2 separate regions of the Homo sapiens genome follow, and region 2 is linked to region 1. Evidence: fine-mapped expression QTL. A gene starts in region 1. The other region holds a variant in brackets. All regions are shown on one strand. Distances are from middle to middle. Region 1 holds the start of WSB1 (WD repeat and SOCS box containing 1). Region 2 has its middle 180 kb from the start of MIR4522.

The links. PIP is the estimated chance that this variant, and not a neighbour inherited with it, causes the effect.
Region 2: its variant is the best candidate, but not a certain one, in a credible set for the expression of WSB1 in whole blood (TOPMed, PIP 0.77).

Annotation. Positions count from the first base shown.
Region 1 is chr17:27,291,974-27,296,370 of GRCh38, forward strand. It overlaps WSB1 (WD repeat and SOCS box containing 1), which reads left to right and starts at 2,141. Exons shown (of 9, transcript NM_015626.10): 1 at 2,141-2,462. The coding sequence starts at 2,423. MIR4522 (microRNA 4522) reads right to left here and starts at 2,023; the gene lies at 1,937-2,023. RefSeq lists enhancers at 1,870-1,919, 2,290-2,349, 2,360-2,419 and a silencer at 1,960-2,169.
Region 2 is chr17:27,110,996-27,115,392 of GRCh38, forward strand. No RefSeq gene overlaps it. Among named protein-coding and RNA genes, the nearest start is that of MIR4522, 180 kb to the right of the region's middle. The variant C/G (reference allele first, on the strand shown) is at 1,797.

The DNA of each region.
Region 1 (4,397 bases):
TAGTACAAGTAACAGGGATAATAGCAGTTGGTTAAAAGAATTAACTCAGACTGATATGAATGTTGGTACATGAGCTACAAGACTGCATTAAAGTTTTTCTTTTGTTCTACTCTAAAAATTCAGCAACTAGGCCCAGTGCCTGATACAGAGTGAGTCCTCAAGATATCGTTGACTGAAGCTAACAAAGTGATTTATTGATTTATTTATTTATTGAGACAGAGTTTCACTCTTGTCACCCAGGCTAGAGTGCAGTGGTGCAACCTCAGCTCACTGCAACCTCTGCCTCCCGGTTTCAAGCAATTCTCCTGCCTTAGCCTCCAGAGTAGCTGGGACTTCGCCACTACGCCTGGCTAATTTTTTGTATTTTTAGTAGAGATGGGGGTTTCACCATGTTGGCCAGGCTGGTCTCGAACTCCTGACACCCGCCTCAGCCTCCCAAAGCGCTGAGATTACAGGCGTGAGCCACCGCCCCCAGCCTAACAAAGTGATTTTTTTTTAAAGACGAGGGGCAGGCAGGGCGCAGTAGCTTAACGCCTCTAATCCTAGCACTTTGAGAGGCCGAGGTGGGCAGATCACAAGGTCAGGAGTTCAAGACCAGCCTGGCCAATATCGTGAAACCCCCTCCCTACTAAAAGGATGAAAAAAATTAGCTGGGCGTGGTGGCAGCCACCTGTAGTCCCAGCTACTCGGGAGGCTGAGGCAGGAGAATCGCCTGAACCCGGGAGGCAGAGGTTGCAGTGAGCCGAGTTGGCGCCACTGCACTCTGCTCTGGGAGACAGAGCAAGACTCCGTCTCAAAAAAAAAAATAAATAAATAACCAAAAAAAAAAAAAAGGAGGGGCGATGTTTTATTAAACATTTCGCTATTTGAAGAATTAATACACTCATGCAAAGAAAAGATGAAGTAAACATGCCCTACAGTGTTATCATTTGAGATCTCTTAAAAGCGGCTATGCAGCCGGGCGTGGTGGCTCACGTTGTAATCCCAGCACTTTGGGAGGCTGAGGCGGGCGGATCACTCGAGGCCAGGAGTTCGAGACTAGCCTGGCCAACAGGGTGAAACGCCCTCTGTACTAAAAATACAAAAATTACCCGGGCTTGGTGTCACATGCCTGTACAAATCCCAGCTACTGGGGAGGCTGAGGCAGGAGAATTGCCTGAACCCGGGAAACGGAGGTTGCAGTGAGCCAAGATCACGCCATTGCACCCCAGCCTGGGAGAAGCGAGACTCCGTCTCAAAAAAAAAAAAAAAAAAAAAAAAAAAAGCGGCTATGCAACACTCTACTCTGTCCCATGAATATCTGCCACATATTTGAATTCCCAGTCTTATACGCCCCAGGCCTTTGCAATGTTTAGGGTCCACACGAGAAGCCATTAAAATGCAAATACGTCATCTGTGACCGGGAACCAAGCTGGCATCTAGCAGATACTGACACATTTATCAGTCTGATGTGTGGACAACTAGGTGCCTCCCAGAGGCCTTCAGGTAAGGTGGAGGAAGGGCCAATTCTGAGCTGACACAGTGGGATCCATCTTGGCCAGGACAGTGGGATCCATCTTGGCCAGGACAAAGGCAGTCCAGAGAGGCCCCGCGGCGCGGTGCGGCGCGATCACGCCCGAGTCTCCTTCTCGTTCCCCTCGGCCCTTCCTAAAACCTGCTGGCTCAGGTCTGAACAATCGCAGCTGGACAGGTGGTGCACAACGATGTTAATTTTCATCCTGTCTTTTTCATCAGTGCATCCTTCAGTTCCCTATTACTTGTGGGCTGGGGAGTTGGCCAAATTGAGTGAAAACCTGAAATGTCTTTTTGTTCTTTTGGTTCAGCCAGTTTAAGTTCCATGCAATCTTTAAGCTAGGAGGCTAATAATAATACAATTCTCTGCTTGCCCTTTTCAAAGCCACTTCAGCTTATAAACTCCATATTAGACCATCCAGGCCCAGAAGACGCCACCGGCCTACAGGCAGAGTCAGCGGAACCAGCCTGGGCTGGATCTCCCCCTGCGAGGCCCCCAGGCAACGCCCGCGCCGGGCCGGGGAGATCACGTCCCGTGCGTCGGGAGGCGGGGGCCTCGGGCTGTGACGTCACGTGGCCGCGCCCCTGCCGCCCAGATATCTCCGGCGCCGCCCGCCATTTTGACTCCAGTGTCTCGTTTGCAGTCGGCGCTTTAGGGGAACTGTCTTCCTCCGCAGGCGCGAGGCTGGGTACAGGGTCTATTGTCTGTGGTTGACTCCGTACTTTGGTCTGAGGCCTTCGGGAGCTTTCCCGAGGCAGTTAGCAGAAGCCGCAGCGGCCGCCCCCGCCCGTCTCCTCTGTCCCTGGGCCCGGGAGGGACCAACTTGGCGTCACGCCCCTCAGCGGTCGCCACTCTCTTCTCTGTTGTTGGGTCCGCATCGTATTCCCGGAATCAGACGGTGCCCCATAGATGGCCAGCTTTCCCCCGAGGGTCAACGAGAAAGAGATCGGTGAGGATTGGGACCGTGGGTGGGCGCATGAGGGCCGAGGAGAGGCAGGGACTCCCCGGAGGAGGTTTGGGAGGAAGCGACTCCAAGTCTGAGGGAAGAGCTCCAGTGCGCCAGGGCCAGCCCACTAGCGAGGAGGAGGAAGCCGCCTCGGTGGGAGTTGGCTGAGGGGTAAACGGCACCGACGTGGATGCAGCACCTACTGTGCTCCCTCGCGGTTGCTGTGTGGCTGGGGCGGGCAAGGACCCCGGTTTCTTCGTCGGAGGTCCGCGCAGGGCTCTTGTCCTGGGAGTTCTTGGCTCAGGGCATGACTGTCGAGTGGACAGGGAAGGGCCACTCAGGGACTTTAGGTTTACAATGGGGAAAAGTAAACTTGTGGGTTGTAAGCGGTAATGAAAGGAGGGGGTCCTCGTGTGTACCAACCACTCTTAGATAGAAATGAGATGGAAGAGGTCCCAACAGCCTGGCAAAAGCAATACAGTATTTTTAAAATGGTGTGGCCTTAAGAAACGCAGCGGTTCGGGGGAGGAGACTTTTAGAATTATCTTTCAAACACTTAAGGGAGGAGCTGGGTGGTTGGGTGGAGTGACAGAAGGAAAGCTTTTGTGCGGAAGAGGAAACTCTGGAAAAGGCTTTTCTGGCTTAGTGTCTAGCCCTGGTCGGCTTAGTAAAGGGCAATTAGTGTTGAAGGTTGTGCGTCCACACCTACTTAGTGGCTCAGTGGAAAGCACGTCGCATTATTTAAATCCTCTTTTAAAGTAAAATAACTGGAACAACGTTTGACGGTGTTGGGGGGTGCTGTACATTGGCTGATAACACTTAGCAAACACTGATCTTACTGTGTGAAGTAATAATTAGCTGCGGCCGCTGAGCAGAGAGCATTTACATTTTCCTACTCTTGAAGTGAATGTGTGCCTTTACTAAGTACAAGGAGGAGTTATTTCTAGAGAAGGGAAGAGGCTGAAGTAGCCAAAACGCGCACTATTTTGTATGTGGGTGAATTTTTATATCTAGAAACAGCTGTTTTAGAATTCTGGACTTTTGTTGTCTTAGGGATGATTGATTAGGAAGGGACTTTAACCCTGGTTTTAATAACCATTTTTAAAGATACAAACACAGAAAAAAAAGGGAAAAAATTGTAGCAGAGTTCACACAGAAAAAAGAAAAAAAAAGATGCAAAGAACACAGAATTTGTGTCCAGTTATTATTTTAACTGTATTTTAAGACTAGAAAGTATGTCGCGAAGTGGGACAAAGAACTCAAAAGTTCTTATCAGTCCAGTGGGTTTTTCTTTTACTTTAGTACACCATAATGTTATAGACGAGTGATCTGCCTTTTTTTTAAATCTGTATTTTACTTCATCCTGATAAACCATTTTGAAAACTTTGCGGTCCTGTTTTCTCTCTCTCTTTTTTTTTTTTGAGATGGAGTTTTTGCTCTTGTTGCCCAGGCTGGAGTGCAATGGCACGATCTCGGCTCACTGCAACCTCCGGCTCCCGGTTTCAAGCGATTCTCCTCCCTCAGCCTCCTGAGTAGGTGGGATTACAGGCATGCACACGCCCGGCTAATTTTTGTGTTTTTAGTAGAGATGGGGTTTCTCCATGTTGGTCAGGCTGGTCTCGAACTCCCGACCTCAGGTGATCGCCCACCTCTGCCTCCCAAAGTGCTAGGATTACGGGCGTGAGCCACCCCGCCCAGATTTCCGGTTTTGTTTTCTAAGAGATGGATAGAGATGGATAGCATACCTACATAAAGTAGAACCATCCACTAAGTGTTCCCCCACTAGCCCCCTGATTTCTCTTTTCTTTTCTTTCTTTTTTTTTTTCATATTTAGGTCTCAGTGTTATTTCCTGGATACGTTATAAAAACTTACTAGCTAAGTGCCAGATATCTAGAAGAACTTTTGCTTTTTCTGAGCTTTTTTTAACCCCAGTTTTT
Region 2 (4,397 bases), 180 kb before region 1:
ACACATTTACAAAACACAGTTTTTCTTTTCTCTCTCAATAAATTTACCAGGTTATATTTATTTTGTCACATCCTAGCCTAACAAATCTTGTTTTGTGTGTGTGTGTGTGTGTGTGTGTGTGTGTGTGTGTATCATAGATCTTTATATAGTGTATATATAGGTAGATCTAGATATATATCTTTATAATATATATAATTTGTTTGTATGCATATATATGTGTGTGTATATATATATACACACACATACATATATATGATAATCTTACCTCCTAAAGGAAATTTGAAGAGATATGTATAACTATATATAGATACAACTGGATTTATTAGTCTAGGATGTGACAAAATATTCAATTTGAAACTGTATTAGCAGCTTTTTAGATTTCATTTATGAGTGGTGCATTATAATATGAAGGAGTTGTAAAACTTTTAAGGATTTTGCAGTCCGAAGATATGAAATATAATCCCAAGTCCACCATTCACTAGCTATTTGTCTGTACTAAAGTCATTTAGCCACTAAGGACATCAGCCTCCCTTTCATCATTTTTAAAATGAGGATAATAATAACTGCCCTTCACACTGTGTAGGTTTGTTGCAAGGCCCAAATGAGGTGATATTTTTAAAATTGCTTCATCAACAACAAAACACTCTCGCACTTCTCTCTCTGTCTTGATCTCTCTTTCTCTCTCTCTTCTCCCTCCCTCTCTCCCTCTCTTTCTGACACACATATCCCACACACATTTCCACATAAAGCTCCCCGCTCAATCCCTTGAGATTATAAATGCCATCACAGAAATATATCAAGTGCCTCTGACAGCTTCTGGCTTCTGTTGCTCACTTTGTTTTTTTCTTTCTTTTTTTTTCTTTTTTTACTTAGAACAAATTGAATCATGCTATTAGGTACCACTTCTTTAATGATTTCATCTATTTGTCACTTCAAAAGGTTTTATTTTTGACCCCAGGCCCTCTGAAAGCCTGTCAGATATAATCAGCTGTTATTCAATTTGTCTGAATATTGAGGTTCATACCACAACTAGAGAAACTGGTAGTGGAGGCACTTCTGTCTTGGAATATAATCAATGGCTGAAATAACTTTGTCATTAAGAATGAAGATTTCCCCTCACAAGGTAACAGAGGATTTGGAAATCTTTAAAATGTGGAATTTCAATAATATTATTCCCCATCACTCCTACCTACCACTTTACTTCTGTCTCACATCTGTTTACACCTAACACATTAGTGGAATCCCAAAGCATTAGTATCCACATACCAGATCAGAAATCCAAACCCAGCACTCATTACCACTAGCTGCATATAACATTTTTATAATTATTAAGTTGCCACTCTAGAAGAGAAGAAATGTAATTTGTATACATACAAATGTGTGTGTGTGTGTATAAGACATGCATTTCTTCACTTCTAGAGTGGCAACTTAATACTTATAAAAGATATATGTATATATATATATATATACGTACACACATATTTGTATGATTTTGAATGTAAATTGTTTTGGAGCTATAGAGCGTAATAAATTTACCAATAGTTTGCATAATATTTATGTATTTATGTTAATATATTTTTAATGATTTTATATATATAGATAGAATGACTGCCTTCACATATGTGTTAAGATACTTTATTGTAAAAGTAATAAAAACATAACTAAAATTGCCACACAGAATATAGCATATTCATTGGCTTATGAATCTGAAGGTCTAGAATTCCTCTCAGGCTTCAGGCAAGGACTGACCCAAGAGTTTAGCGGTATTACTATCTGCCAGCTTTTACTTCATTGAT[C/G]ATGACTTCATTTTAAGACAGTCTTCCCTCATAATCTCAGTCTATCCTATTCCACTTTCAAATTTATATGCATAACACTTTCAACAGTCACCAACCCCTCTCTGTTTAGCCCACCATTGTAACATACCCATTTCTGAACAAATAGATGATTGTGTGTATTGCTTATTGACTTAGCTTAGGTTACAAACTCCCCCTCTGGAATAAGGTCATTATCATCTTACCCATAATCACAGTGATCTCTAGAGATTGCAACTACTGAAATCAGAAAGATGCAGAGTGGGAATAAGTAAAACCTATTCTAATAATAAAAGAGTAAATTTTACATGTGCACATAGGTATATTTATTGTCTGGATTCTAATTCCTGATGCAAAGAATAAAGACAGATTCTCCCATGAGTGAATAAAATAAATTTTTTTTCATGAACTATTAGGTTAAGACACATAAAACTGCCACATGGAGGTGCCAATTGGTCAAAACGCAGCAACTTCATACTGTTCAACCTAAAAGAAGGCCGCCGTAGGGAAAACTGGCCACAGTTGCTTTACCTATACTAAAGACCACGACCATCAGTACATGTAATATCCTCCATTGTTTCCCTAGCTTATTTAATATATCTGTGTGGCAATGATCTCATTCGTTTTCCTAAAATTATATGTTTAATTTTTTCAAAAGTTGCTATAGCAAGATAGAAACCTCCTAAAGCTGAATATCCCTTGAATGCGTCATTGGTATATTTTAGCCTCAAGCTTCACATGAAGGATCATTATCCATACATATATTTTGCAGATGTAAATTATTTGTCTGTGCAGTGGATTGGAGTGTAGGTCCTTTGTATGTATGAAATAGACCCCTTTATTTCTGGGAAAACATTGTTCTCTTCGTGGGTTTCCTGTGATCACGTGTTGTTGCTATCCACGTGTAGGTCTTCTCTGAACTCCTGTAGGATGATTCGGCCCCAGCTCTGGTTTTGTTGACTGCTGAATCATGTAAATGGAGCCTTAGTGAAAAATATCTCTATTGAAATGCCTTGTCAGAAATCAATAATAGCTGATCTTTACAGCAAAATACATACCAAAAGCTGGTTTTACAAAACATTATGTAAGGATGATTGCTTCTTTATTTTGTATAGACATACTATGTGCACTGAATTGTCAGCTCACTCATCAGGGACTTGATGAGTACTTCTGGCATCTTTGGGATAGTTTCATGTAGACAAACCCTTTAAGGGAAAAGCCCCAATAATTATGTTTCTGTTTCTATCAAAGGAAAACAAGATAGCCTATACTACAAAATAGGTATAGGTTGGCTGGGCGTGGTGGCTCATGCCTTTAATCCCAGCACTTTGGATGGCCGAGGCGGGCAGATCACGAGGTCAGGAGATCCGAGATCATCCTGGCTAACACAGTGAAACCCCGTCTCTACTAAAAAAATTCAAAAAAATTAGCCGGGCGTGCTGGTGGGTGCCTGTAGTCCCAGCTCCCCAGGATGCTGAGGCAGAGGAATGGCGTGAACCTGGGAGGCAGAGCTTGCAGGGAGCCGAGATCACACCACTGCACTCCAGCCTGGGCGACAGAGCGAGACCCCGTCTCAAAACAAAACAAAAAAAGGTATAGGTCATTGTCACTATTGGCAGGGAGCTAGAAATCATGCATGGGAGTGAATTCTAAAGATGTTAGACAATGGGCAACAAAATACAAAACTTGCTGAAGCTGAATTCTTTTGCACAAATGCATTCACCCTGAATTCAGGGTGTGATGTTTTGGCTACCACAATGAAAAGTGGCATTAATAGTCAGCTAGATTAGCTAACTGAAACCAAGTCTCAGTAATAGCTTATAGTTAATGAAGTCAAAATGTCTGAACTTTTACAGCACATTATAAAACAAGGTTCTCAAATTTCAGCAAGCATCAGGGTGATATGCATGGCTATTTTATTTTAAGACAGAGTCTCACTCTGTCGCCCAGGCTGGAGTGCAATGGTGCAATCTGCAACCTCTGCCTCCCAGGCTCCAGAGATTTTCTTCCCTTAGCCTCCTAAGTAGCTGGGATTACAGGTGCCCACCACCATGCCTGGGTAATATTTTTTTATTTTTATTTTTAGTGGAGGCGGGGTTTCACCATGTTTGCCAGGCTGGTTTCGAACTCCTGACTTCAAGTGATCCACCCGCCTCTGCCTCCCAAAGTGCTGGGATTACAGGCATGAGCCACCATGCCCAGCTTCATGGATGGCTATTTAAACACAGATTGCTGAATTGGGATCTCTGAGTTTCTAATGCAATAGTTTGGGATGGAGCCGCAAATATGGATTTTGAACAAGCTCTCATGCAAAGATGATGCTTATGTCAGGGGACCACACTTTAGAAACACTGTGATAAAGCCTACTTTCATAAAGTGAGACACATAGACAAGCAGCATCAACTAGAAGGCTCTACCCTCCTACCCTATATCTACTAAATCAGAAGTTATAATTCTAACAAGATCTCTAGGTGATTCATGTGCACATTAAAGTTGAGAAGCCCTACTTTAGAGGAGTTTAAAATTTCAGAGTGATGGAAATGTGCAATGAATTTATCTTCATGTGTAATCTGAGAAACCAGTTTT